4 separate regions of the Homo sapiens genome follow, and all the other regions are linked to region 2. Evidence: fine-mapped expression QTL. A gene starts in region 2. Each other region holds a variant in brackets. All regions are shown on one strand. Distances are between the middles of the regions. Region 1 has its middle 10 kb from the start of MIR6719. Region 2 holds the start of FCGBP (Fc gamma binding protein). Region 3 overlaps FCGBP (Fc gamma binding protein). Region 4 overlaps FCGBP (Fc gamma binding protein).

Region 1 (7,443 bases), 120 kb after region 2:
CAAATTGAGCTCCTGCTCCTTTCCCCAAAATTTTTTCCCTGCATGTTCATCTCAGTAAATGCTCCCCCCATCCTCTCCAGGCCCAAACCACTGGAATTGTCCTTTACTCCTCTTTCTGTCTTATATTCATGTCTGTCAGCTAATATACCTGACCACTTCTCCCCACCTTCACTCCTGTCCACCCTTATCTCCTTCACAGACCATTATGGCAGGCTCCTCAGTGATCTCTCTGCTCTCACCCCTGCCCCCAGAGTGTTCCTTACATGCAGCTGGAGGGATGCTGTGAGCACCTGTATCAGGTCATATCCCTCCCCCGCTCAGAACACTTCCAAGGCTACATCTTGCTCGGGGTAAAACCCAGAGTCCTCTGCAAGGCCCTGCATTGTCTGCCCTCATCACCTCTCTGACATCATCTACTCTTCTTACTCCCTGTGCTCCAGCCACACTGGCCCGAGGGCCTTTGTGCTTGCTCTTTTCTTTGCCTAAAGAACTCATCTATCAAATAGCCCAGACTTGTTCCTTCCTCTTTAGGTCTCTCCTGAGATGTCACTGCCTTCCTGAGATCTTCCCTCACCACCCTTCTAAATTTGTGACTTATAGTCACATCTATCTTTGCTTCTTTAACTTTATCCTTAGCATTAATCATATTACTGTTTAACACTCTGTAGAATTTATCTGTGTTTATGGTCTGTCTCCCCTGACCCTTACCTCTAGGAGACTGTTGACTTCATCAGGGAAGGGGCTTTTGTCTACTTCCTCCGTTATCTCCAACACATAGAAAAGTGCTTGGCACACAGTTAGGGCTCAGTAACTACTTATCAAATAAACTATTGAAGAGCACATATCTGGATCCCAGCATGGCGGGGACTCTGCCGATCCCCTTTCTACAGAACTCCAAGGAGCTGCCTTAAAGTTTTCTGAGGGCTCAAGATATTCAACAAGTATTTCACCTTGCCTCTTCTTTCTCCTCAGCATTGGGAACACAGAAGAGAACAAAATATTCCCCTACCCCTATAGAACCTACAGTAATAGGGACAGTAATTTAGACTATCAAATAATCACACGTGTGAAATTACCAAGAAAGGTAGAGAGTGTTATAAGAATACTTGATAGGAAATCAAATCCGGATCCTAGGAAATGAGGTTTGAGGTGATGAAGGAGTAGGCATTAACTCCTTTAAGAGATAAGAGTTTGGGATGGTTGGAGCCTAGAGGCTGATGCAGAGCAAGAGGTCAGACCTTGTGTATGCCATAAGGAGTTTGGGTGTTTACCCCACATGTAGTGGGAAGTTGTAGAATTTTAAGCTGGGGACAGGAGCGTGGTCAGGTGTTTGTGTGTGTGTGTATGTGTGTGTGTGTGTTTCCTTCTAAAATTCTTCACACTAAAGTGTACTTTAAAAGACTCCTCTGGCTTCTGTGTGGGGAATTGACTATAAGGCATTAAGGATTAAAGTAGGGAGACCAGTGACAAGGCTGTTACTGTGGAATTAAAATAGCTGTGATTGAAGACAGCCACACATTCTTTGCTGTTTTTCCTATCAAGAGGTGGAGTCTCCTTCCTTCTCCTTATATCTGAGCTGGCCCTGAGATTTGTTTTGACCAATAGAATACAATGAAAGCAGGCTGGGTGCGGTGGCTCATGCCTGTAATCCCAGCACTTTGGGAGGCTGAGGCAGGTGAATCACTTGAGGAAAGGAGTTCGAGACCAGCCTGACCAACATGGAGAAACCCTATCTCTACTAAAAATACAAAAAAAAAAAAAAAAATAGCCAGGTGTGGTGCACTCCTGTAGTCCCACCTACTCTGGAGGCTGAGGCAGGAGAATCACTTGAACCCGGGAGGTGGAGGTTGCAGTGAACCAAGATCATACCACTGCACTCCAGCCTGGGTGACAGAGTGAGACTCTTTCTCAAAAAAAAAAAAAAAAAAATACAATGAAGATGATGCTGTACTAAATGGAGGCCTAGGCTTTAAGAGACCTGGCAGATTCTGCTTCTACTCTTGGAGCCCTGCCCTTTCTATAGATCTGCCCCAGCCCGCGGCTGTTCCAACTTTTAGCTGATGTGCAGGCGTGCAAGTGATGCCATCTTGGGATGGCCTAACTCCCATTCCAGTTGACACCATGTGGAGTAGGAATGAACCATCTCAAATCCCCTGACCCTTTGAGCCTTGTCCAAATTGCAGAATCATGAGCAAAGAAATGGTTGCTATTTTATGCCCCTGTGGCTTAGGATGCTTTGTTACACAGCAATAGCTAACTGAAACAAGCTAATATTTTTTTAAGATCTTACCATTTTATGTATTAGCTCATTTAATCCTCAGTCACCGTATGTGGTACTACTACTGTTCCCATTTTACAAACGAGGAAATGAAGGCACACAGAAGCTAATAAAGTACTAGTAAAGCGCCTGGCACAAAGCACTGAATATGTGATAGCTATTATTATCAGCATCATGTTCATCAGCATTACAATTTTCACAATTGTTGAAGAAGTGGCGGTCAGATGAATAAACACATTAGTAACCCACTTCCACTTCTTTTTCTTCTTCTTCTTCTTCTTTTTTTTTGTTTTTAAACAGGGCCTGACTCTGTCACCCTGGCTGGAGTCACTGCAGCCTAGACCTCTTGGGCTCAGGTGATCCTCCTGCCTCAGTCTCCTGAGTACTTGGGACCACAAGCATGCACCACCACACCTGGCTAATTTTTGTATTTTTTGTAGAGATGGGGTTTCACCATGTTTCCTAGAGTGCTCTCGAACTCCTGGGCTCAAGTGATCCACCAACCTTGGCCTCCCAAAGTGCTGAGATTACAGGCGTGAGCCACTGCGTCCAGCCAACCCACTTCTTAGTGATGTGATTTTAGCCATTTTCTTGGAAGGACTAGTAGAGAGATGGAAAGACATCGAGTCTTTGGTGATGTTGTTGAAGTGCTGGATCAGGCCTCACTTGGAGTGAGTTACCTCTAGACTTTCTCATTAGGGAATTCAACATATCTCTATCGTTTAAGCCAACTATATTGTTGAATTGAGTTTTCTATTACTTAGAATCAACAATATCCTAACTGATTCCAGGGTTTTCTTATTTGTTGAGTCATCAGATCTGGCTATTTACTACATGCCAAGCATTTTTAGGTGCTGGTATTATTAATAGTAGCAAACAAGACCCCCGAAAGCCCTGTCCTCCTGGAGCCTGCATTCCAGTGGGCAAGATGAATGCTAATATTAGTGAACAGAGCTGTAGAAGTTGAGGGTTGGAAGACTAGAGAGTGGGAAGAGGTGCTATTTTAGATAGAGGGGTTAAAGAAGACCTCTTTGAGAAAAACGTTAATGGACCTCACAGAAAGGGAGGACACCAGCTGGCTGTATGTATATTCTGGGAAGAAGGACATTCCAGGTAGAAAAAACCAGCAAATTCAAAGGCCCCGAGGCATGCTTGGTGTGCTGGAGGAGCAGAAAGGAGTGAACTGGACCTGACTGGACACAGTGGGAGGGAAGGAGACCAAGGCAAGGTCAGGTGGGACCGGGAGGCCATGGGAAGGACTTGAATTTGAAGCTGATGAGATGTGTGGCAGGGAGAGCATGGTGAGCTGAGGCGATGTGATCTACCACGGTAAGAGGGTTCCTCTGGCTCCCATGTGGCTA[C/G]TAGGGTGGAAGCAGGATGCCAGTGAGGAGGCCACTGTGCAGTCCAGCTGAGATGATAGTGGCTTGGCCAGGGTGCTAACGGGGCGGTGGGGAGATGTGGTCAGATTTTGCATATAATTTGAAGGGAGAATCAGGTATGTAGGGTAAGAAAGAAGAGTCAAGGACCACACTATGGCGTTTAGTCTGCACAGAGGAAGGAGGGAGTGCCATTAACTGTATGGACAAGACTGAGAGAGAGTGTGGGCGTGTTTAGCCTCTGACTGGACCCACTGGCCAAACAGGAGCTTATACAAGACTGGCATTGAAGGGTGAGATCTGGGCTGGGAGTAGTTGGCATATTTATGGTATTAAAGCCCAGGATGGGATCACTAAGGGAGGGTGTATAGATGGAAGTGTGGGCTGAGAATGAGAGCAGGGAGGCCCGTGAGGAGGTTGCTGCAATAATCTAGGTGAGATGACAGTGGCCTGTACCAGGGCAGGGGCAGAATGAGTAGTCATTGGAGTCTGGGTGCATTTTGAAGGCAGAACTCACTGTGATTGGTTGTGGGTAGTGATGGAAAGAACCTGACAAGGGCTTCATGAGAACAGAATAGAAGCAGAAGTGAGACAGTGGTGTGACATTCCTCCTTTCCACTGGGCCCTGTGGTCTCTGCTTCTCTTTGCATTGGCTGCTTCCTGTTCTCAGGCAGCTGGGTTGGTCCTGGGTGGACTCTTGCCCCCACTCTATGTGATCTTCCAGCTCAGTTACCCGCAGCCCCTCAGTCTTCATTCCGAATTTCCCAGATAGGAATGGGATTTCCAGGGTCGGGTATCCAACCCTGCTCAACTCACTGGAGCTGGAGGGTTCCTATAGTGATGACTGTCTGCTCAGAAGGGCTGTGGACTGGGCAGGCCCCCCAAACATTCACAGTCACCATGTGTTTCTGACACTTGGTGTACAGGGCGGACATGTGGGTGGGCAGGTGTGGCAGGGGTTGGAGATGATTTGACCCTCTTTTGGCTGATGGGTGAGACAGACCATTTATATTGCCTCAGATGTGTCCTGGATTGAGCAAACAGGAAAGGGGATACCAGGAAGGTGGATCTGGCAGGCCTTGGGCTGTGAAGCGTTAAGGGTCAGTTGGGAGGATTCAGGCGCAGCTTCTGCCTGTTCATGGGTATTCCCAGAGGAGTCAGGGAGACACGCATTACTCTCAACTCAAGAGAGACACAGCAATGGCTGAGACACAGCAATGGCTGAGACAGCCTCCACCTTGCCCTCGCAAAGCTCACAGTCCAGTGGGGAAGACAACCCCAACGGCAGACAGTGACCAGGGCTGGGATGGGGAGGCAGAGGGGTTGGGGCCAGGATAGGGGAGCCACAGGGGGACTGTGGGAGCCAGAGGCAGCTCCTGACCCAGTCTGTGGTGTCAGGTGGGACTTCCTGGCGTGGGGAGCATGTAAGATGAGATCTGAAGGATGAGTCAAACAAAGCGTGCTTTGGAACTCCGCGGGGGACCACCTCGAGCCATATTGCAGAGGAGACTTAAAGTTTTGTGAACGTTTTAAAATTTAATAATTTTAGATTTACAGACAAGTTGCAAAGATGATACAGGGACTTCCCTATACCTACACCCAACTTCCACCTAGTGTTAGCATCTTACATAATTATTGTATATTTGTCAAAACTGAGAAATTAACATGGATTAATATTCTGTTAAACTCCAGACTTGAATCCTATTTCTCCTGTTTTTCCATTAATGTCCTTTTTCTGTTCCAGGATCCAATCCAGGATACCATGTTGCATTTGTTGGTCATTTCTCGTTGGCCTCCTCCAATCTGTGACAATTTCTCAGTCCTTCCTTGTTTTTCATGACCTTGACAGTTCTGAGGAGTACTGGTGAGATGTTTTTGTAGAATGGCCCTCAGTCTGAGGTTGTCTGACATTTTGCTCGTGGTTAGACTGGGATTTTAGGCTTTGGGAAGAATGCTCACTGAGGTGAGGTTAACCTGATCACTTCATGAAAGTGGTGTCTGCAGATTTCCCAACGATAATACCACTATTTTCCCTTTACTCATTTGTTAGAAGCAAGTCACTAAATCCAGCCCACACTCAGAGGAGAGCTAAGCCTGATTCCTGGAGGGAAATAGGGAGATACTTGGAGGCTGCACAAATATCCCATTTCTCCTTCAAGTTTACCCACACATTTTAGCATTCATCAGTGGACCCGGTCTGTAGCAGTTATTACCGTGATATTATAATGATGACTTTCTGTTTCCCTCATTTCTTTACATTTACTATTTAGAATTCCATATGGAAGATTTGTCCCTTCTATCATACTTCACTTATTTTATTTATACAATCATTAGTTTATTTCCGTGTGGACTCATGAATATTTATTAGTTGGGCATACCCCAACATTATTGTAATCAATTTTTTTTTTGCTCAAGTTGTTTTAGCCTTGGCCATCAGCGTTTATCTTTCAGGTTGGCTCCTGTGTTCTTTACTCTTTTTTTTTTCTCCAACACCTTCTTACTTTCTGGCACTGCAAGATATTCCAGGCTCATGTATTCTCCCTGCACCAGCCCTAGAATTAGCTCTTCCTCTAGAGTCACTGGTTCTTTTCATTGGAGAATGGTGTGTAAAAATAAGCATGAGTTCATACTGATACTCTGACACTAGTCTAGTACCAGAGGGTTCATTCTCACCATCCCCCCCTTGCTTTCTTTATAACTCCTTCCTCTGCCAGTGAGAAGCCTGGCTCAGTGGGCTCTTTTTGGTGCTCATCTTATTGGTCATCTTGGCAAAAATCGGCTGTGGTGACCCTGCCTGCCTTCTGTGAGCACACCCTCCCCTTAGTTTCTGTGAGTCTGCTATCCCCTGACATTTCCTCTACGTTTTGCTTCCTTGCGGGCTCCTCTGTTTTCACCAGTCTGTTAAATGTGGTGGGGCTATGTTCTCTCTTCTCACCTTGGGGCCACCTTACCCTCTTTCATGGTCTGTTTCCTATCTCTGTGCAGATGACACACTCTGTCCTTAGCCCTGACCTCTACTCTGAGCCCTAGACCTGGAGGATCCGGAGGCCTCATGGACAATCCCCCAATCCCAACTGGGCAATCCTTGGGCCCTTAACACTCACCATGTCCCAGATTCCAAACATGCTCTCTCAGCCTTTGTCTCAGGGGTGGCCCCTCCAGGCTCCAGGTTCTCAGAGGGAGCCATGGGCCTCATTCTGAATGCCTCCCTCCCATCCCTGCCCCCCGTCCAGCCCATCAGCTTCCAGGGCTTGTCCTCTGGGACTGCTGGACATCTCTCACATCTTCTCCCTTCTCCCATTTTCCACTCTGCCTTGGTCCAACCCGGTCCTCTCCCACCTTGTCTCTGCCTGTCCTCCTCCCTGGGCTCTTGGCCTCCCATCTCACCATTTAACGCAATTAAACCTGTTGTAGGGGGAAAAGTAAACAGGAAAATAAATCACATTATGTGTCAGCTTAAGATGAAAACAACTTTCAGGAATCACTTTATTACTTTAAAAAATCTACAGCAGTAGGAAGAAAACTGAGGCTCATTTCTCTTTACACTAGGGTTGTCACACCAGAGTGAAATTTTAAGGATCACTTGTAAGCTTCCTTTTGAGTCACATTGATTAAGAGAATCTTCTATATTAATTATCACAATTATCCTTATAAACATGACTTACAAGGTATCTAAAAAATGTCTCACAAGCATTTAGAACAACTGAATTGTATAAAAGGATTTTGTATGTGCAAGAGGGAAGTTAACTAGATTATTAATACTGGCATTGGGAGAATTCTTCCACTCTG
Region 2 (7,443 bases):
ATTAATACGAAAATACTTTCCTTCAGAGCGAAAAACATTGCTAAAAACAAAGGATCATTCTGCCAAGACATTGCAATCCTAAGGTATATGTACCAAACAACAGAGATTCAAGTACATGAAGCAAAAACTGATAGAGCTGAAAGGTGAAATAGACAAGTCCACAAATATAGTTGGAGAATTAAAAACGTCAGTCTCACCAAATTGATAGAACTACCAGGATAAAATATGTGAGAATATCAAAGAACTGAATAACAGCATCAATCAACAGGATCTAATTGATATTTATAGAATGCTCTATTCAACAATAGACAAATCCACAAATACATTTGGGAAATTCAAAGACTTGCTCTTGTTAGCAACAACAACAACAACAAAGAAGTAGTTCTTTCGTTTCATTGATTTTCTCATGTTCAGTTTTATTAATTTCTGCTCTTCATTATTTCCTTTCTTCTGCGTTGTGTTTGTTTTGGTCTTTTACTACTTTATTGTGTAAGAAGAGCTTAGAATATTGGTTTAAGAACTTTCCTCTTTCCTAATGTAAATATTTAATGCCATAAATTTCCCTTTAGCTATATCCCACATATTTTGAAATATCTTCTTTTCATTTTCATTTAATTCTATGTATTTTTGATACTTCCTCTTTGGCCCATGGATTATTTAGAAGTGAGTTGCTCAATATCCTTGTGAGTGGAGATTTTCCTGTTTTTCTGTTATTCATTTCAAGCTGATTCCATTATGGTCAGAGAACATCTCCTATAGAATTTCAATTATTATAGGCAGAGAGGAAGTGTGAATGTCAAATGTTAGAGGGAAGGAACTAGAGGCAAGTGGCAAATAATGGGTCATTGGAGAGTTTAACAAAACGTTCAGTGCTTATGGAAGTCGGATTGTGGGATCCAGAGCGTAAAGGAATTAAGTTAGAAATTGCCCGCAAGCCTGAATTTAGCTGGAGAGAGTAAATTCTCTTCCACTGTGCTCCAGTCTATAAAGCCAAGACTAGTCAGAGGGGCCCAGGGGTCTGGGATGGTATAGCCAGTGCCCATGCTGCAAGGAGACGGAAGCAGATAAGCAGGAAGAGGCCGAAAGGCTCAGGTACACAAATACCCTTGTTTGGGCTCAGAGCAAGGCTGCCAGTGGAGGGATGGATGCGATTTCTCTGACCATAAGGAAGTGTCCCCAGAGTTTATTTCCCGGGTCACCAAAGGGTTTCCTGAGAATTGATATAATACAGGGTAAAGCACAGGGGTGTACACACACACATACACACACACACACACACACACCCACACACACACCCACACACACACCACTTGGGCCTTAAAAGGAGTGAGAAAGAAGACCCAAGGGGATTGGCACATACAGAGTATTAATTTGTGAGATCTCCCACCACAACCACCCCATTTCTGGGGACTCTGGCTGTGGAGAGCGATGATGAATTTTGAAGGCAGGAAGCTTCTTTCTGTGATCAACCAGGGGAAACCCCAAGGCTTAGAGAGAATTGAGGGCCAGAAACACCCATGAAACTCACCCTGATTCTTTCCCTTCACCTCCCATTTGTCTCTGAGTGCCTCTAATTACAAGAGGCATATGGCACACAGAGGATTTTATTTTCTTTTTTCTTTTTCTCCCCAGGCCAGAATGCAGTGGCATGATCACGGCTCGCTGCAGCCTCAGACTCCTAGGATCAAGCAATCCTCCCACCTTAGCCTCCTGAATGGTGGAGACTACAGGTGCATGCCACCACACTCGGTTTATTTTTATATTTTTTGTAGAGAAAGGGTCTCACTATGTTGCCCAGGCTGGTCTTGACCTTGTGGCCTCAAGTGATCCTCCTGCCTCAGCCTCCCAAGTAGCTGGGACTACAAGCGTGCACCACCGTGCCTGGCTAATTTTTGTATTTTTTTGTAGATACAGGGTCTCACTATGTTGGTCTTGAACCAGGCTGGTCTCAAACTCATGGCCTTAAGCAATCCTCCTGCCTCAGCCTCCCAAAATGCTGGAATTATAAGCTGAGCCACTGCGCCTGGCCTCAGACAGAGAATTTTCACATCTTGGTTTGCAATTGCTGTTTCCTCCTAGGAATCCCGACGTCTCCTCCTCCGAGTCCTTCTCTGTCTCAGGGACCCAGCAGCCCCTTCCACCAACTTTTAGACCCCTCAGGGACCCAGGCATCCTTTTCCCAAAGCTTCCACTTCCTGTGGGTCCCCTGCCCCTGCTTGTTTCTTGTTATCTCTGGCTTTTAGCCAGTCTCCTATTTACTCACCTCATTCTCCTGGTTGACTTTATGTCCCAGTCAACTCTTAGCCTTTATCTTTCCCTCCAGGAACGTTTCTTGGGTGGGCGTGGGGATTGGTTGGAGCTCCAGGGAGAGAGAAGCCCCCCACCCGCTCTGGCCTCCCAGAGGCCCAGGCTGCTGTGATAAGAGAGGAGGAGCCCCAGGGGCAGCAGCTGCTAGGGTGTTGGTCCAAGAGAGCACCCAGGCTTTGCAGCTGCTGGTCCCAGGGGAGACTCCCCCAGCAAACAATGAGATCCTGAGTCAGGGAGAAGGCAGGCAGGGCATGGGTCAGGCCAGCCCCTCAGAGGAGCTGACTCCAGCTGAGAAAGCCCAACTTTCAGCTCATTCTTCTGCTCCTTGTGTGCAACCTAGACCTCCACCTCCCATCTCAGGCAAATTCTGGGGTGATGGAGAGGCACAGAGTCCCCTAAACCTGTTCAGCTAGCCCCTGCTAAGAGCAAACCCTCCCTACACACAAAAAAACTCCAAAACCAACAGGTCCTGGCTCTTCCTCAGTCCTCACAGGCTGGGGAGTCCCTGGCCACCTATATCCTGTTTCCAGCACCACTGAGGAGCAGGTGTCTGGGATCAGAAGTAGAATCTGGGTGTCTGTGTGGAACCAGGAAACAGAGGCCATTGTCCCTTCTTCACACACCGCCTCAGTCCCAGTGCCCACCTGCAGCCTGGCCTGCGCCCACACCAGAGGAGGCTGCCCCCCAGCTCTACAGTCCTTGAGAATTTTTTTACATCTCTGGGACGTAAAGATGCCCAGAGAGGCTGGTTTTGGTGTTCCCATTTTGCAGATGAGAAACCGCAGACGCCCCACTGGGCTGCGGTGGAGGTCTTGTGTCCCACTCCATAGCCTCAGACTCCTGCCCATCCCAGACACCTGCCCCTAGTGGTGTCTGGAAGCAGGATGTGGGTGGCTAGGGACTCCCCAGCCTGTGGGGACTGAGAAGGAACCAGGACCCGGATATGGGTCCCTCACTGTTGTTCCTGGCAGGAGCCAAAGGAAGGAACCTAGCCACTAAGCCAGCAAATATGACCACATGCCACCTCCCACCCTCACTGCCCACACCCCCACCCTACCCCACCTCCACCCAGGGACCCAGGTGCTCATCTGCCTGCTCCCCAGCTGTCTCCCTCAGGGACCCCACCCTTCCAGGACCAAACTCTCCAGAAGGCTTCCAGGGAATGGCCACCAGCTGTCCTCACTCCCTTCTTGGAACCCAGGCATCCAGAATCACTGTCCCTCCTTCCCAGGCCTTCACAGTTTCCCATTTCATCTGGCCATGAGGATGGCAGCCTCCTCCAGGAAGTTGGCATCATCTGCCTGGCACGTGGCCCAGGGTGTGGCCCAGAAACTCCACTATATAGCCCTGCCACAGGGCTGGCCCTGCAGCTCCAGGGACCTGCAGGTGAGAAGGGCTGGGGTCCCCTTTGGAAGTGGGACAGCAGGTCCCCTACTCTTGCCCCTGACTGTAGGCCTCCTCATCCTACCCCTAGACCCACAAGACAGCCAACTCTCCACCCCGTCCCTGGCTTCTGCCCTCCCCAACCCACCTCCAGACCCGCTGGACAGCCAGCCTCCCCTATACACACACACTGGTCCTTGGATCCATACCCCCTGGCCCAATCTGCCCGACTTCTTTCCCCACCTCAGCCTTCATGGTCCCAGGTGGCCCTTGTCATGAGAGTGGGCCCTTCTGCCCAGGACAGTCTCCAGCAGAGGCGGTGGATCAGCCTTCTATGATCCTTTCTCTTTTCCTACTGCAGCCATGGGTGCCCTATGGAGCTGGTGGATACTCTGGGCTGGAGCAACCCTCCTGTGGGGTAAGTCAGACCAAGACCCTCTCCATGTCCTTGTTCCAATCTGGGGAACTCTGCGTGGGTCCACGCCTTCCATGTGTGCCTCCTCCACATGTCACCCCAGGCTAGCTGAGACAGGAGAGAGGCCCTTAGGCTCTGCAGGGGGATGTGGTAGAATTCACCAATTCTCACCCTTTTCTGGATGGGAGCACAGGCAAAAACCTTAGTCCCCAAACTCAAGTGTGCAAGAACTTTCTTGGTTTTCTGCAACTCAACTAAGGTTTTGACTCTGAGCCTCATTCTGCTAAGTTGATGGAAAATTTCACGAAAGTCATTCTTGGAGGGTGTTGTCCCCACTTCTCCCAGGGATGTGTCCAGAACTAAAATTTTGGATAAAGCCAAAGTACTGGGGGGAGGATGGGATATGAGGACCCTCTCGTCACCAGTCAGCATCCATCTAGGTTACTTTTGAAATGTCCATTGTTCCTGATCCCCTGGCCCCCTGGGATATCCTTCAAAGCCCCCTTTATATGGAAGGTGGTCATTCCATAGCCCCCACACTCTCTTCAAGATTCCTTAGACCTCTCTCTCCTCAGCCCCAGGGACGCTCTTCCTAGTTGGGGGTGGTCAGAAGCCCCCACTGCCATCTATTTCTAGGAGACAATTCATTCACCCTTCCATAATCCCCTTCTTCTCTTTATCCCCTTTTCACAAACCCCCAAGTCCCATTATTATTATTATTATTATTATTATTATTATTATTATTTGAGATGGAGTTTCACTCTTGTTGCCTAGACTGGAGTGCAATGGTGTGATCTCAGCTAATTGCAACCTCCACCTCCTGGGTTCAAGCGATTCTCCTGCCTCAGCCTCCCTAGTAGCTGGGATTACAGGCGCCCCATGCCACCATGTCCGGCTAATTTTGCATTTTTAGTAGAGATGGAATTTCACCACGTTGGTCAGTCTGCTCATGAACTCCCGACCTCAAGTGATCCACCCGCGTTGGCTTCCCAAAGTGCTGGGATTACAGGCAAGAGCCACCGCGCCTGGCCCCCACAAGTCCTATTAAGACAAAAACCAGCTGGGTACAGTTGGTCACGTCTGTAATCCCAGCACTTCGGGAGGCTGATGCAGGAGGATCACTTGAGCCCAGGAGTTCAAGACCAGCTTGGGCAACAAAGTGAGACCCTGCCTCTAGAAAAAAATTAAAAAATGAGCCAGGCACACAGTGCGTGCCTGTGGTCCCAGCTATACCAGAAGCTGAGACAGGAGGATCCCTTGAGCCCAGGAGGTTGAGGCTGCAGTGTGTTGTGTTTAAGCCACTGCACTCCAGTTTGTAAAAAGATGGAAATCATACACTGGCAGCAGAGTACATCCACCTTGAGCCCCAAAGTGCTTAAAACAATTGTGGGTTGGAGATTTCACATGAAAATTCAGATAGCCACATTCTCTTTAAAAACAGAAAGAACGGCCAGGCGTGGTGGCTTACGCCTGTAATCCCAGCACTTTGGGAGACCGAGGCAGGTGGATCACCTGAGGTCAGGAATTTGAGACCAGCCTGGCCAACAGGGTGAAACCCCATCTCTACTAAAAATACAGAAATTAGCTGGGCGTGGAAACCGGGAGGCAGAGGTTGCAGTGACCCAGGATCGCGCCACTGCACTCCAGCCTGGGTAACAGAGTGAGACTCCATTTCAAAAGAAAAAAAAGAAAAAATACAAAAGTTAACTGTGCCTGGTGGCGCACACCTGTAGTCCCAGTACTCGGGAGGCTGAGGTGGTAGAATCACTCGAACCTGAGAGGCAGAGGTTGTGGTGAGCCGAGATCGTGCCACTGCACTCCAGCCTGGGTGACAGAGCGAGACTCCATCTCAGAAGAAAAAAAAAAAGAAAAACAGGAAGGTCTTACAATTTAAAAAAGCTCACATTCTTTCATTATAACAGGTGAAAGCTAGTACCAACAATCCACTTTTTTTTTTTTTACTAGTTTATATATTTTTAAAATTTTTAATTTTTATGGGTTTGCATTTATGGGGTACCTGTGATATTTTGATACAGGCATACAGTGTGTAATGATAAAATCAGGGTAACTAGGGCATCCCTCACTTCAAGCATTTGTCATTTCTTTGTGTTAGGAACATTCCAATTCCACTCTCAGTTATTTTAAAATATACCATAAATTATCGTCAACAATAGTCATCCTGTTCTGCTACCAAATACTAGATTTTATCTATTTTATCTAACTGTTTAACTGTATTTTTGTACCCATTAACCATATCTACTTATCCCCCAGTCCCCGCTACACTTTCCAGCCTGTGGTAATCATCGTAACCATCATTTTACTCTCTATTTCTATGAGTTCATCAGTTAAAAATTTTAAATTCCCATCTATGAGTGAGAACATGTGAAATTTGTCTTTCTATACTGGCTTATTTCACTTAACATCATGTCCTCCAGTTCCATCCATGTTGTTGCAAATGACAGGATCTCATTCCTTTTTTTTTTTTTTTTTTGAGACCGAGTCTCACTCTGTTGCCCAGGCTGGAGTACAGTGGCGCGATCTTGGCTCACTGCAACCTCCGCCTCCCAGGTTCAAGTGATTCTCGTGCCTCAGCCTCCCGAGTAGCTGGGATTACAGGTACATGCCACCATTCCTGGCTAATTTTTGTAGTTTTGGTAGAGACAGGGTTTCACCATGTTGGCCAGGCTCGTCTTGAACTCCTGACCTCAAGTGATCCACCTGCCTTGGCCTCCCAAAGTGCTGGGATTATAGGTGTGAGCCACTGTGCCGGGTGATCTCATTCTTTTTTATGGTGGATAATTCTCCATTGTTTGTATGTACCAAATTTCCTTTATCCACTCATCTGTTGATGGACACTTAGGTTGATTCCGTATCTTGGCTATTAGGAATAGTGCTGCAATAAACATGGGAGAGCAGATGTCTCTTACATATACTGACTTCCTGACTTGGAAGGAAAGGAATTGCTGGATCATACAGTAGTTCTAGTTTTAGTTTTCTGAGAAACCTTCATATTATTATCGATAGTGATTGTACTGATTTACATTCCCACCAACAGGGTAACAGGGTTCCCTTTTCTCCACATGCTCAGCAGCATTCATTACTGCCTTTCATTAGGATAAAAGCCATTTTAACTCGAGTGAGATGATATCTCACTGTGGTTTTAATTTGTGTTTCTCTGATGATTAGTGATGTTGAGCATTTTTTGATATACCTGCTGGCCATGTGTATGTCTTCTTTGAGAAATGTCTATTCAGATCTTTTGCCCATTTTAAAATCAGATTAATCCGGGCGTGGTGGCTCACGTCTCTAATCCCAGCACTTTGGGAGGCCGAGGCAGG
Region 3 (7,443 bases), 45 kb after region 2:
GAGGGCCCTGGCTTCTGCGGACCCCTGGCCCCCGGCACAGGGGGCCCTTTCACCACCTGCCATGCTCATGTGCCACCTGAGAGCTTCTTCAAGGGCTGTGTTCTGGACGTCTGCATGGGTGGTGGGGACCGTGACATTCTTTGCAAGGCTCTGGCTTCCTATGTGGCCGCCTGCCAGGCTGCTGGGGTTGTCATCGAAGACTGGCGGGCACAGGTTGGCTGTGGTGAGTGTTGGGGGAGCAGAGGCGGGGCTGGGGGCGGGGTCCCATCTCTTCGGGGCTGGTTTGGTTTCACTCTGGTCCTTCTGGGTCTCTTTGTTTTCTTTTTTCTCTGTTTGTCTCTCTGTTTCTTGGTGCTCGTCTCTGGGCCTCGCTTTGCTTGTCTCTATCTGTCTGTTTCTCATTCTCTAGCTCCCTCAGTTTCTGCTTGGGTCTCCTGGTGTCTCGCCCTCTCCCATTTCTTTCTCTGTGTCCTCTCTCTGTGTCTTGTTTTCTGTCTCCCCCTTTCTCTGTCTGCTCCCTAGTGTCTCTCTCTGTCTCCTCCCACCCTGTTCTGGGACCCCACCCCTAACACCCTTCTTTCTGTTTCTCTCCTTCCTGCTCCTTCATCTGCCCACAGAGATCACCTGCCCAGAAAACAGCCACTATGAGGTCTGTGGCCCACCCTGCCCGGCCAGCTGTCCGTCCCCTGCACCCCTTACGACGCCAGCCGTATGTGAGGGCCCCTGTGTGGAGGGCTGCCAGTGCGACGCGGGTTTCGTGTTAAGTGCTGACCGCTGTGTTCCCCTCAACAACGGCTGCGGCTGCTGGGCCAATGGCACCTACCACGAGGCGGGCAGTGAGTTTTGGGCTGATGGCACCTGCTCCCAGTGGTGTCGCTGCGGGCCTGGGGGTGGCTCGCTGGTCTGCACACCTGCCAGCTGTGGGCTGGGTGAAGTGTGTGGCCTCCTGCCATCCGGCCAGCACGGCTGCCAGCCCGTCAGCACAGCTGAGTGCCAGGCGTGGGGTGACCCCCATTACGTCACTCTGGATGGGCACCGATTCGATTTCCAAGGCACCTGCGAGTACCTGCTGAGTGCACCCTGCCACGGACCACCCTTGGGGGCTGAGAACTTCACTGTCACTGTAGCCAATGAGCACCGGGGCAGCCAGGCTGTCAGCTACACCCGCAGTGTCACCCTGCAAATCTACAACCACAGCCTGACACTGAGTGCCCGCTGGCCCCGGAAGCTACAGGTGAGGAGGGCTGTGGGCCAGACAGGAGCAAGTGCCAGCTCTGGGGTTGCCTGAGATGGTAAGGGCTTCACCATTCCCCTGGGCCCCTTTCACAGCTTAGCTGGGGCATGATGGAAGGGTCAGAGTGTACGCCTAGGAGCCTGATGGCTTGGCACAGCAGCTTCTTCCTCTGTGAGCCTAGTGTATTCCTCTGTAAACTGGTCTAGGAAAAGTACCTGTTTTCGAGAAGGATAAGGAGTCAGTGACATGAGCCAGTAGAGGCTCTTTGTTTTTCTTTTCTTTTTTTCTTTCTTGCTTTTCTTTCTTTCTTTCTTTCTTTTCTTAGCCTGACTCTGTTGCCCAGGCTGGAGCGCAGTGACAGGATTAGGGCTCACTGCAGCCTGGAACTCGTGGGCTGAATCGATCCTCCCGCCTTGGCCTCCACCTCCCAAGTATCTGTGACTAAAGGCACACGCCACCACGCTGGCTAATTTTTCATTTTTTTGTAGAGATGGGGGTCTCACTATGTTGCCCAGGCTGATCTGAACTTCTGGCGTCAAGCGATCCTCCCATCTCGGCCTTCCAAAGTCCTGGGATTGCAGGCTTTGCCACCAGGCCCGGCCTATAGATGCTCATTATTATTTTCAGCGGGAGGTGACATGCTCTGGGTCCCACAGCTAGTAGGTAGTGGGGCCAGGATTCAAACCCGTGTTTGCTCCGTTCACCGCTCCCCCACTGCCCACAGGTGGACGGCGTGTTCGTCACTCTGCCCTTCCAGCTGGACTCGCTCCTGCACGCACACCTGAGCGGCGCCGACGTGGTGGTGACCACAACCTCAGGGCTCTCGCTGGCTTTCGATGGGGACAGCTTCGTGCGCCTGCGCGTGCCGGCGGCGTACGCGGGCTCTCTCTGTGGCTTATGCGGGAACTACAACCAGGACCCCGCAGACGACCTGAAGGCGGTGGGCGGGAAGCCCGCCGGATGGCAGGTGGGCGGCGCCCAGGGCTGCGGGGAATGTGTGTCCAAGCCATGCCCGTCGCCGTGCACCCCAGAGCAGCAAGAGTCCTTCGGCGGCCCGGACGCCTGCGGCGTGATCTCCGCCACCGACGGCCCGCTGGCGCCCTGCCACGGCCTTGTGCCGCCCGCGCAGTACTTCCAGGGCTGCTTGCTGGACGCCTGCCAAGTTCAGGGCCATCCTGGAGGCCTCTGTCCTGCAGTGGCCACCTACGTGGCAGCCTGTCAGGCCGCTGGGGCCCAGCTCCGCGAGTGGAGGCGGCCGGACTTCTGTCGTGAGTACTGCTCCATGCATGGTCCACATGGTTGGGTCTCTCCCTGCCCTTCCCAGGACTGTAGGACAGCAGCCCCTTCCTCCTCCATGGGGCTCAGGGGCCACTTTCCTTCCCGAGCTCGGTATCTACTGTCAGGAAACACCTTGGCACTGACACACTGAAATGCCCCAAGTCAGGTACTGCAGTGAGAGAGAGTCAGTTAGAAACACCTAGTCAGAGTGTGGGCGCGGTGGCTCACGCCTGTAATCCCAGCAATTTGGGAGGCCGAGGCGGGCGGATCACCTGAGGTCAGGAGGTCGAGACTAGCCCGGCCAACATGGTGAAACCCCACCTCTACTAAAACTACAAAAATTATCCGGGCGTGGTGGCGGGCACCTGTAATCTCAGCTACTCAGGAGGCTGAGGCAGGAGAATCACTTGAACCCAGGAGGCAGAGGTTGCAGTGAGCCGAGATCGTGCCACTGCCCTTCAGCCTGGGTGACAGAGATTCCATCTCCAAAACAAAAAACAAACAAACAACAAACAACAGAAAAAAAAAAAGAAAGAAAAGAAACCTGGGGTCCAGGACACTCTTAGGGATTGGTGATCCATGCTTTCAGGTATCCAAGGCATGTAGATTGGGATGGCTGACCCTGCCTCTGTCACATAGCAAAGTACCCCTTGTTAGGAAGACCTAGTGAGTTTCAGCTGGTCAGAGGGCCCAGGTCTGTTGCACACACTGAAATACACCTAGTCACATGGAATTAGTCGCATACCTTCAGTGATATCTGCTTAAATTTTATACTGACTGGTCAGATACACTCAGAAAGAAACAGGATCCTGGCATAGCCTTGGGCAGATCCACACAGATGCATAGTTAGATAGTCCTAGGCGGTTCCCTTCAGGCAGGTCTCCTGGTCACAGGTATCCTGCCAACTTCACCCAGGCACAGCCTTAGGCAGACCATGTCAGAAGGACTCTGGGAGATGCTGCATGTCAGACACCCACAGCTGGGTGCCCTCAGGCAGAGCCATACCCTGAGATACATGTGGCCCCACACCCCAGTCACATTCACACGCTGAGATGCCCATAGTCAGTTCTGATCCTGCATACCCCGAATAGATATAAGTGATCCATTTCACCCAGGTAAGCCTGGCTTACATAGTGAGACCCCATCTCTACAGAAAATAATAATAAATCAGCCAGATGTGGTGGCTTACTCCTGTAGTCCCAGCTAATCGGGAGGCTGAGGCCAGAGGATTGCTTGAGGTTTAGGTGGAGGCTGCAGCGAGCTGTGATTGCGCCTCTGCACTCCAGCCTGGGTGAGATAGAGTGAGAGCCTGTCTCAAAAAAAAAAAAAAAAAAAATATCAGCCAAGCAGAGTCATTTGATCTTCAGAAATATTTGGTCAGAGAGACCTGGGCATGTCCCCTCCCATTCCAGGTCCCACGCTGAGTCCCCCAGTTAGATGTCCTGGATCACATGTGC[A/C]TGCCCAGAGACGCCCAAGTTGGCCTGAGCAGTTTTCCCACTCAGGGCCTCCCAAGACTGCGACTCAAACACCTACCTGGCTGATGCCCACCTTGTCCCCACAGCCTTCCAGTGCCCTGCCCACAGCCACTACGAGCTCTGCGGTGACTCCTGTCCTGGGAGCTGCCCGAGCCTGTCGGCACCCGAGGGCTGTGAGTCGGCCTGCCGTGAAGGCTGTGTCTGCGATGCTGGCTTCGTGCTCAGTGGTGACACGTGTGTACCTGTGGGCCAGTGTGGCTGCCTCCACGATGACCGCTACTACCCACTGGGCCAGACCTTCTACCCTGGCCCTGGGTGTGATTCCCTTTGCCGCTGCCGGGAGGGCGGTGAGGTGTCCTGTGAGCCCTCCAGCTGCGGCCCGCATGAGACCTGCCGGCCATCCGGTGGCAGCTTGGGCTGCGTGGCCGTGGGCTCTACCACCTGCCAGGCGTCGGGAGATCCCCACTACACCACCTTCGATGGCCACCGCTTCGACTTCATGGGCACCTGCGTGTATGTGCTGGCTCAGACCTGCGGCACCCGGCCTGGCCTGCATCGGTTTGCCGTCCTGCAGGAGAACGTGGCCTGGGGTAATGGGCGAGTCAGTGTGACCAGGGTGATCACGGTCCAGGTGGCAAACTTCACCCTGCGGCTGGAGCAGAGACAGTGGAAGGTCACGGTGAGAGCAGATGGGGAGCAGGGGGCGAGGGGCCTGTGGGTAGGTGGGGCACAGGCAGCGCTCAGCCCAGGAGTTGGGGGCACAAGAGATGAGAGTGCATGTGCGAGGCCTGGGGTCTCTGAGGACAGAAGATGCCAGTCAGAACCGAGTGGGAAGCCAATGAGGGAGGTGTCATCAGGGACTTGGGAGCTGCTCCCCCATCTCTGTCCCTCAGTCTCCACCCTCTCTTTACCTCCATGCATTGACTTTTCTCTCCAAATTTCTCCCACCCTCTCCTCCCTCCCACTCCATCCTCTCTCCACCTCAGTCCTGGATTCTGCCCTACTCACCTCCCTAGTCTGCCACTTATTGGCAGGACGTGGTGCCATCAGAGGTTGAGAAAGTCCGAGTTTGAGAAGCTTCATGGACAGAGGACAATCTGTGGGTGACACTCTCACCGCCTTAACAACAACAACAGCAGCTATAGTTTCTATACAGCTGACTGCACACCTTTTGGCTGCCAGGCACTTCACGTCCATGGTGTCTGTATGCTTGCAACAGGGACTGCAGGCACTATGACTTGCTTTATTTTTCAGAGTGGGATGGCCCATCACTGGCCCATAGTCCCCCAGCAAAGGTGGAGCTTGAACCCCGTGCTGCTCTGCAGTGCTTTTCTTACTGAGAAGATTTGGTCTCATGTGGAGACTGGCATCTGAGTTACAGTGGAGGGGTTTCCCCTGAGATCCCACTGAAACAGACACGCAGCTGTTTTTCTAGTGGCAGTATTGGCGAAGGTGCTGATCAATTACTGACTTAATCTGGCGAACTGGACAGGCGTGACTTTTTTTTTTTTTTTTTTGGCACAGAGTCTGGCTTTGTCACCCAGGCTGGAGTGCAGTGGCGCGATCTCGGCTCACTGCAACCTCTGCCTCCCTGGTTCAAGTGATTCTCCTGCCTCAGCCTCCAGAGTAGCTGGGATTACAGGTGTGCAACACTATGCCCAGGAAATTTTTGTATTTTTAGTGGGGACGGGTTTCACCATGTTGGCCAGTCTGGTCTCCAACTCCTGAGCTCAGTGATCTGCCGGCCTCAGCCTCCCAAAGTGCTGGGAATAGAGGCATGAGCCACTGTGCCCGGCCGACATGCAGGACTTAATTGAATATATTCCCTAATGTTTCCCAAGCTCCTAGAATAGCCCCTGACATACAGCGCCTAAATACACAGGAGTTGTTGATGTTCTTGTTAGTTGCTTCTTACTGAAACCCCCAGCTTCCCTACAGATGTGGGAGCTCTTATTACCCCGCAGTTTACAGCTGAGGAAACTGAGGCAAGGCTAAGTCAGTTGCCCTTACCCACCGCCCAGCCCTGCTTGGGAAGTGTGGCAGTTGACCATCTTTTTAGGAGACTCAGCCAGGAGCATGTCTTTCTCCTGCCTTCTCCTCTGATTCTTCACATTTCCAAAAGAATCCGGTGTGCACTGTCTGTGATAAGGAAGGGTAAGAAAGCATGTTAATCAGGGGTTGATGTATTTATTTATTTTTTAGAGACAGGGTCTTGCTCTATCACCAAGGCTGGAGTGCAGTGGTGTGATCCTAGCTCACTGCAGCCTCAAACTCCTGCTCTCAAGCAATCCTACCACTTCAGCCTCCTGAGTGGCTGGGAGTACAGGCATGCACCACCATGCCCAGTTAATTTGTTTTCTTTTTTATTTTGTAGAGACAGGATCTCGATATATTGCTTAGGCTGACCTTGAACTCCTGGGCTCAAGTGATCTTCCCGCCTTGGCCTCTCAAAGTGCTGGGATTATAGACATGAGCCACTGTGCCCTGTCCAGGGGTGGATTTACCAGGCTTTGTTGGAGCCTAGTAAATCTTTAACTGAAACCACTGGTCCTCAGCTCATAGGTTTAAGTTCATTTCCCCAAGAATTTAGCCTAACTTTCCACTCGCTGATGCTTTAAAGCAAAAACCTGTGGTTCTGTTTACTCTTCAGAAGAAAAACTTCCACTCATAGCTGCTAATAACAGCAAATGCTCCTGAAGCATGCATGCTATGCCAGCCACGTTTCTCAGCACTTTACAGATACTAATTTATGTGATCCTGACAACAGTTCCATGGGGCAAACGCCTTATTCCCACTTGATAGATGAGGAAACAGAAACAGGGAGAGGTGACTCACTTGCCCAAGGTCACAAAGAGGGTAAGGGGGAAACTGTTTGAACTCGGGCAAGTGGCTCCGGGGGCGATCATTGCTTATTAATGGCTGCAGCAAGCGGTAAACAAAGGATAGCTGGAGGCTTGTTACTTCATCGAGACCTGTATTCGTTTCCCATGGCTGCCATAACAAATTACCACGAGCTTGGTGGCTTAAAACACTAGAAATGTATGTTCCACAGTCCTGGGTGCCAGAAGTTCAACATCAAGGTGTGGGCAGGGCTGCACCCCCTCCAAAGACACTGGTTGGGGGATCTTCCTTTCCCTTTCCAGCTCTGCAGACTCCAGGTTCTCTGGGCTTGTGACAACACCATTCTAATCCCTGCCTTCATCTTCATGTGGCCTTTTCTGTGTGTCTCTTTGCCTTTTTCTTTCTGGCTCTTATAAGGATACTAGTCATTGGATTTAAGGCCCAATTTAATCCAGGATAATCTCATGTTGAGATTATTACCCTGATTACATCTGCAAAGAACTTTATTCCGAGTAAGCTCACGCTATGGGATTCTGTGTGAATATGTCTTTTGGGGACCACCATTCAATCTACTATCAGGCCCTGTTATTATATCCATTTAATAAATAGGAAACT
Region 4 (7,443 bases), 63 kb after region 2:
TCTCTCCCTGCCCTTCCCAGGACTGTAGGACAGCAGCCCCTTCCTCCTCCATGGGGCTCAGGGGCCACTTTCCTTCCTCTGAGCTTGGTATCTCCTGTCACCAAACACCTTGGCACTCACACACTGAAATGCCCCAAGAAAGGTACTGCAGTGAGAGAGAGTTAGAAACACCTAGTCAGAGTGTGGGCGTGGTGGCTCACGCCTGTAATCCCAGCACTTTGGGAGGCCGAGGCAGGTGGATCACCTGAGGTCAGGAAGTTGAGACTAGCCCGGCCAACATGGTGAAATCCCTGTCCCTACTAAAAATACAAGATTTATCTGGGCGTGGTGGTGGGCACCTGTAATCCCAGCTAATCAGGAGGCTGAGGCACTTGAACCCAGGAGGCAGAGGTTGCAGTGAGCCATGATGTGACACTGCATTCCAGCCTGGGCAACAGAGTGAGACACCATCTCAAAAAAAAAAAAAGAAAGAAAGAAAAGAAACACCTAGTCAGAAACCTGGGGTCCAGGACACTGTTGAGGATTGGTGATCCATGCTCTCAGATATCCAAGGCATGTAGATTGGGATGGCTGACTCTGCCTCAGTCACACAGCAAGGTACCCCTGGTTAGGAAGACCTAGTGAGTTACAGCTGGTCAGAGGCCCTTGGTCTGTTGCACACACTGAAATACACCTAGTCACATAGAATAAGTCACATACCTTCAGTGGTATCTGCTCAGATTTTGTACTGAGACTAACTGGTTAGATACACTCAGATAGAATCAGGACTCTTACATAGCCCTGGGCAGATCCACACAGATGCATGGTTAGATAGTCCTAGGCGGTTCCCTTCAGGCAGGTCTCCTGGTCACAGGTATCCTGCCAACTTCACCCAGGCACACCCTTAGGCAGACCATGTCAGAAGGACTCTGGGAGATGCTGCATGTCAGACACCCACAGCTGGGTGCCCTCAGGCAGAGCCATACCCTGAGATACATGTGGCCCCACACCCCAGTCACATTCACACGCTGAGGTACCCATAGTCAGTTCTGATCTTGCATACCCCGAATAGATATAAGTGATCCATTTCACCCAGGTAAGCCTGGCTTACATAGTGAGACCCCATCTCTACAGAAAACTACTAATAAATTAGCCAGATGTGGTGGCTCATACCTGTAGTCCCAGATACTCGGGGGGCTGAGGCAGGATGATCGCTTGAGCCCAGGAGGTGGAGGCTGCAGTAAGCGCGCCTCTGCACTCCAGCCTGGGTGAGATAGAGTGAGACCCTGTCTCAAAAAAATAAAAAATAAATAAATAAATAAATAAATAAAAATCAGGCAAGCAGAGTCATTTGATCTTCAGAAATATTTGGTCAGGCTAACACATAACCTGGTCAGAGAGACCAGGGCATGTCCCCTCCCATTCCAGGTCCCACACTGAGTCCCCCAGTTAGATGTCCTGGATCACATGTGCATACACAGAGACACTCAAGTTGGCCTGAGCAGTTTTCCCACTCAGGGCCTCCCAAGACCCCGACTCGAACACCTACCTGGCTCATGCCCACCTTGTCCCCACAGCCTTGCAGTGCCCTGCCCACAGCCACTATGAGCTCTGCGGTGACTCCTGCCCTGTGAGCTGCCCGAGCCTCTCAGCACCCGAGGGCTGTGAGTCGGCCTGCCGTGAAGGCTGTGTCTGCGATGCTGGCTTCGTACTCAGTGGTGACACCTGCGTACCCGTGGGCCAGTGTGGCTGCCTCCATGATGGCCGCTACTACCCACTGGGCGAGGTCTTCTACCCGGGCCCTGAGTGTGAGCGGCGCTGTGAGTGTGGGCCAGGTGGCCATGTCACCTGCCAGGAGGGCGCAGCCTGTGGGCCCCATGAGGAGTGCCGGTTAGAGGATGGTGTCCAGGCCTGTCATGCCACAGGCTGTGGCCGCTGCCTGGCCAACGGGGGCATCCACTACATCACCCTTGATGGCCGTGTCTACGACCTGCATGGCTCCTGCTCCTATGTCTTGGCCCAAGTCTGCCACCCAAAGCCTGGGGACGAGGACTTTTCCATCGTGCTTGAGAAGAATGCAGCTGGAGATCTCCAACGCCTCCTGGTTACTGTGGCTGGCCAGGTTGTGAGCCTAGCTCAGGGGCAGCAGGTGAGTCCATGTGAGCCTGCCCTGGGGGTCTGAAGGCAACACAGCCCCATCTAGGGGGTTCTGAGGGAGACACGACCCCACCCTGTAGGTATGAGAGGGACATTCCTCTAACATGGGAACTCTGGTACCTACCCTGGAAGGTTTGGTGAATGGTCCCACCGTGGGAGATTTTTGTGTTGTTTTGTGACAGGGTCTTGTTCTGTCACCCAGGCTGGAGTATATTGGCGTGATCACAGCTCACTGCAGGCTCAACCTGCTGGGCTCAAGCAATCCTCCCACCTCAGCCCCCCATGCCTAGCTAATTTTTTATTTTTGGTAGAGATGAGGTCTTGCTGTCACGGCCAGGCTGGTCTCGAACTCCTGGGCTCAAGTGATCCACCTGTCTGGGCCTCCCAAAGTGCTGGGATTATAGGTGTGAGTCACCACGCCAGGCCTGGGGCCCAAGAAGTTTAAGGGAAACATGACCTGACGTTAATGGGACTGAGGGAGATGCAGCTCTGGCCTGGGAGTGGGACAGGACAGCCTTGCCTGTGGTTCTGTGAGTTCCTGACCTACCCGACCCTTCCACCCAGGTCACCGTGGACGGCGAGGCTGTGGCCCTGCCTGTGGCTGTGGGCCGCGTGCGGGTGACCGCCGAGGGCCGAAACATGGTTCTGCAGACGACCAAGGGGCTGCGGCTTCTCTTTGATGGCGATGCCCACCTCCTCATGTCCATCCCCAGCCCCTTCCGTGGACGGCTCTGTGGCCTCTGTGGGAACTTCAATGGCAACTGGAGTGACGACTTTGTCCTGCCCAATGGCTCAGCAGCGTCCAGTGTGGAGACCTTCGGGGCTGCATGGCGGGCGCCCGGCTCCTCCAAGGGCTGTGGCGAGGGCTGCGGGCCCCAAGGCTGCCCAGTGTGCTTGGCAGAGGAGACTGCACCCTATGAGAGCAACGAGGCCTGCGGGCAGCTCCGGAACCCCCAGGGCCCCTTCGCGACCTGCCAGGCGGTGCTGAGTCCCTCTGAGTACTTCCGCCAATGCGTATACGACCTGTGCGCGCAAAAGGGTGACAAAGCCTTCCTGTGCCGCAGCCTGGCAGCCTACACGGCGGCCTGTCAGGCAGCTGGCGTGGCCGTGAAGCCCTGGAGGACAGACAGCTTCTGCCGTGAGTGTCCGTGGGTCCCTCGCAGGACTCTAGACCAGGTGTAGGGGCCCCTCCTGGCCCATTCCTTCTATTTGCATGTCGGAGTGGTTTCTCCCTGTAAAAGCGCTCCCTCCCCACCCCCTCCCACCCCACACCCACACAACTTCTTCTCCCACGGCATAGTCCACTGGCTTCCCTGCTATCCCTCTGACTGTTCCTTCTCAGCCTCCTGTCTGGGCCCACTCT[G/C]CTCAAACCTCAAATTCTCTTCTTCCCTAGTGTTCTATTCTGGACTCTTTCTGCAGTGACCTGAAAGGGAGAGTTGGATGGGTTGGGAGATCTGTGGCTCACACAGACCCTCCTTCTACCCCCGACAAGACCATATCCCCTCAGATCCCCCCAAGACAAGGCTGCAGGCTATTAAACACCCCGCTAAACTAGGACTGTACCTCTCATTCAATTCCCCATGGGAGGGACATCACCAGAGACTCTCAGGAAAAAGCAATGGCCCCTTCGGCTCCAGGTCAGAGCCAGGTCTCCCCTGGGCAGGACCTATACCCAGGGCGGTCATCCACACCCGCGGCCTTAGATTTGTTCTCATTGTTGACCATGGACCTGGTCTGTCTGTCTCAAGCCCTGAACTCTCTCCTGACTGTCAGCCCAGTGATCCTGATTTCTGACTTCTGGCCTTCAGAACTGTGGGAGAATGAATTTCCCCTGTTTAAGCTACAAAGTCTGTGGTAATTGTTAGGGTGTCCAAGACACCTTCCCCTGGGTGTCCTTACCGTCCCTCTTACCTGCTGTGTTCCCAAATAAAATCAGCATTTCACCCCCAGCCTGATGCTCCTTCCCCAAACCTGGTGGGCATTGCAGAACAGCCACACCTCCACCAATTGCTTAGCCAGAGACCAGGGACTTACCACAGATAATTCCCTTGGGTCCATATAGCCCCTGTCCCAACTCTGACCCCTCTGCCTGTGCCCCCCTATCCCAGCCCTGACCCCTTTGCCTGTGCCCCCCACACCCTGGCCCTGACCCCTCTGCCTGTGCCCCCTACCCAGCCCTGACCCCTCTGCCTGTGCCCCCTACCCCGGCCCTCAACCCTCTGTGTGTACCCTCCCCATCCCGGCCCTGACCCCTCTGCCTTTGCCCCCCCACCCCAGCCCTGACCCCTTTGCTTGTGCCCCCAACCCCAGCCCTCAACCCTCTGTTTGTGCCCTCCCCATCCTGGCGCTGACCCCTCTGCCTGTGTGCCCCCACTCTGGCCCCGACCTCTTTGCCTGTGCCCCCGACCCTGGTCCTGACCCCTCTGCCTGTGCCCCCTACCCTGGCCCTCAACCCTCTGTCTGTGCCCTCCCCATCCCAGCCCTGACCCTTCTGTCTGTAGCCCCCTACCCTGGCCCTGACCCCTCTGCCTTTGCCCCCTCATGCCTGCCCTGACCCCTCTGCCTGTGCCTCCCCACCCTGACCCTGACCTCTCTGTCTACACTCCCTGATGCAGCATGTTCACTTTGGGCTCTTCCTGTCTGTCCCACTGGAAGTGAGCTCTGTAGGACTGGGGTTGAGACTTTTCTCAGTATTTGTGTCCTCAGCACCGCCTAAAACAGGGCTGGGTGTGCAGTAGGCCCCCTTGGTTATCCAGGACCCTTTGGAGGTGTGACTCAGCCCTGCCTCCTCTCTCTGCAGCGCTCCATTGCCCCGCCCACAGCCACTACTCCATCTGCACTCGCACCTGCCAGGGATCCTGTGCGGCTCTCTCCGGCCTCACGGGCTGCACCACCCGCTGTTTTGAGGGCTGTGAGTGCGACGACCGCTTCCTGCTTTCCCAGGGTGTCTGCATCCCTGTCCAAGATTGTGGCTGCACCCATAATGGCCGATACTTGCCGGTGAGTAGGGGCTTGGGGTGGGCAGAGAGGGTAGAAGAGCTTGAGAGAGACCCAGAGATTCTGTGCTGACCTCTTCAAGGCTGGGGACAGAGGAGGTACCGCCATATCCCAGCTATGTGACTTGATGCAGGCAACCTCCCCCTATTAGTCTCCTGCAGCTTCTGTAACCAATTACCGCAGACATGGTAGCTTAAACAGGAGAAATTCATTCTCCCACAGTTCTGAAGGCCAAAAGTCAGAAATCAGGAATACTGGGCTGACATCAAGGTGTTGGCAAGGTGGCACTCCCTCCAGAGAAATCTAGGGGAGGCCATGCCCAGTGGCTCATACTTGCAGTCCCAGCCCTTTGGGAGGCCAAGGCGGGAGGATCACTTGAGCCCAGGAATTCAAAACCAGCTTGGGCAACATACAATTGTTTTTTTAATTAGCTGGGCATGGTGGTGCACACCTATAGTCCCAGCTACTCAAGAGGCTGAGGTGGGACAATGGCGTGACCCCAGGAGTTGGAGGCTGCAGTGAGCTATGATCACGCTGCCGCACTCCAGCCTGGGTGACAGAGCAAGACCTTACCTCTAAAGAAAAAAGGAAAAGAGCCAGGCACGGTGGCTCACACCTGTAATCCCAGCACTTTGGGAGACTGAGGCGGGCGGATCACGAGGTCAGAAGTTCAAGACCAGCCTGACCAACATGGTGAAACCCTGTCTCTACTAAAAATACAAAAATTAGCCGGGCATGGTGGTGCGTGCATGTAATCCCAGCTACTCAGGAGGCTGAGGCAGGAGAATCACTTGAACCCAGGAGGCGGAGGTGGCAGTGAGCCGAGATTGCGCCACTACACTCCAGCCTGGGTGACAGACCGAGACTCCATGTCAAAAAAAAAAAAAAAAGAAAAGAAAAGAAAAGAAAAAAGAAATCTAGGGGAAAATCTGTTTGTTGCCTCTTCCAGTTGCTGGTTGCTGCAGGTTTTCCTTGGTTGTGGCCACATCACACCAACCTCTGCCTCCTCTTCTGAGTGTGTCATAACACCTCCCTCTGCTTCTCTCTTATAAGGATACACGTGATTGCATCTAAGGCTCACTCAGATAATCCAGGAGAAATTTTCCATCTTCAGATCCTTAATTCAATCACATCTGCAAACACACTTTTCCCATATAAGGTGACATTTACTCATTACAGGGATTAGGACCTGATATCTTGGGGCGGGGGCATCATTTGGCCCCTCCTTGAACTGCATTTTCTTCACCTGTAAAATGGGACTAATCACCATCTTTGTACCATAGGTATCTGAGGATCAGGCCCGATTATACAGGAAAGATACCCACTGAGCACTGGGCCTTGCCCTGCATGTTCATCACACTCAGTAAAAAGAAAGAGCAGTTTACAGCGGGGCGCAGTGGCTCACACCTGTAATCCCAGCACTTTAGGAGGCCAAGGCGGGCGGATCAAAAGGTCAGGAGTTCGAGACCAGCCTGGCCAATATGGTGAAACCCCGTCTCTACTAAAAATACAAAAATTAGCTGGGTGTGGTGGTGGACACCTGTAGTCCTAGCTACTCGGGAGGCTGAGGAAGGAGAATCCCGTGAACCCGGGAAGTGGAAGTTGCAGCGAGCCGAGATTGTGCCACAGCACTGTAGCATGAGCAACAGACCGAGACTCCATGTCAAAAAGAAAAAAAAAGAAATAGCAGTTTACAACAGTGCAAATAGGTAGCCCAGCTAATAATTGTTTAATAATATGAATTAAATTGAAGAATTGATTTATTCTTGTTAATAATTTTTTTGAGCTCTTACTATGCACCATGTTTGTTATGGGTGTTATTATTTATTTATTTATTTATTGAGATAGGATTGCACTCTGTCTTTCAGGCAGGAGTGCGGTGGCATGATCACGGCTTACTACAGCCTCAAACTCCTGGGCTCAAGCGATCTTTCTGTCTCAGCTTCCTGAGTAGCTGGGACCACAGGCTCACACTGCCATCCCTGGCTGACTATTTAATTTTTATGTAGAAATGGGATCTCGCTATGTTGTCCAGGCTGGTCTCAAACTCCTGGGCTCAAGCAATCCTCCTGCCTTGGCCTCCTAAAGTGCTGGGATTACAGGGATGAGCCACCTCTCCCGGCCATGTTCTGGATGTTAATTCATTTAATAATCACAACAATCCTATGCAATAGATACTATGACTATTTTCCCCATTTTACAGATGAAGAAATTGTGACATAGAGAAGTCAGCCCGAGGCTAGCCATTAACATGCAGCACTAACTTGCATTGCTTGCAAATGGAGCCAAATTTTGCTCTTTCCTTGAGGT

Evidence for each region. PIP is the estimated chance that this variant, and not a neighbour inherited with it, causes the effect.
Region 1: its variant is the best candidate, but not a certain one, in a credible set for the expression of FCGBP in whole blood (INTERVAL, PIP 0.61).
Region 3: its variant is fine-mapped to the expression of FCGBP in fetal neocortex (Walker 2019, PIP 0.95).
Region 4: its variant is the best candidate, but not a certain one, in a credible set for the expression of FCGBP in NK cells (Schmiedel 2018, PIP 0.89).

The regions. Positions count from the first base shown.
Region 1 is chr19:39,815,668-39,823,110 of GRCh38, reverse strand. No RefSeq gene overlaps it. Among named protein-coding and RNA genes, the nearest start is that of MIR6719, 10 kb to the left of the region's middle. The variant C/G (reference allele first, on the strand shown) is at 3,640.
Region 2 is chr19:39,931,229-39,938,671 of GRCh38, reverse strand. It overlaps FCGBP (Fc gamma binding protein), which reads left to right and starts at 4,038. Exons shown (of 36, transcript NM_003890.3): 1 at 4,038-4,108. The coding sequence starts at 4,054.
Region 3 is chr19:39,886,702-39,894,144 of GRCh38, reverse strand. It overlaps FCGBP (Fc gamma binding protein), which reads left to right. Exons shown (of 36, transcript NM_003890.3): 20 at 1-223; 21 at 618-1,234; 22 at 1,959-2,502; 23 at 4,074-4,666. Among named protein-coding and RNA genes, the nearest start is that of FBL, 44 kb to the right of the region's middle. The variant A/C (reference allele first, on the strand shown) is at 3,970.
Region 4 is chr19:39,867,909-39,875,351 of GRCh38, reverse strand. FCGBP (Fc gamma binding protein) reads left to right here. Exons shown (of 36, transcript NM_003890.3): 31 at 1,557-2,128; 32 at 2,701-3,274; 33 at 4,937-5,136. Among named protein-coding and RNA genes, the nearest start is that of FBL, 25 kb to the right of the region's middle. The variant G/C (reference allele first, on the strand shown) is at 3,500.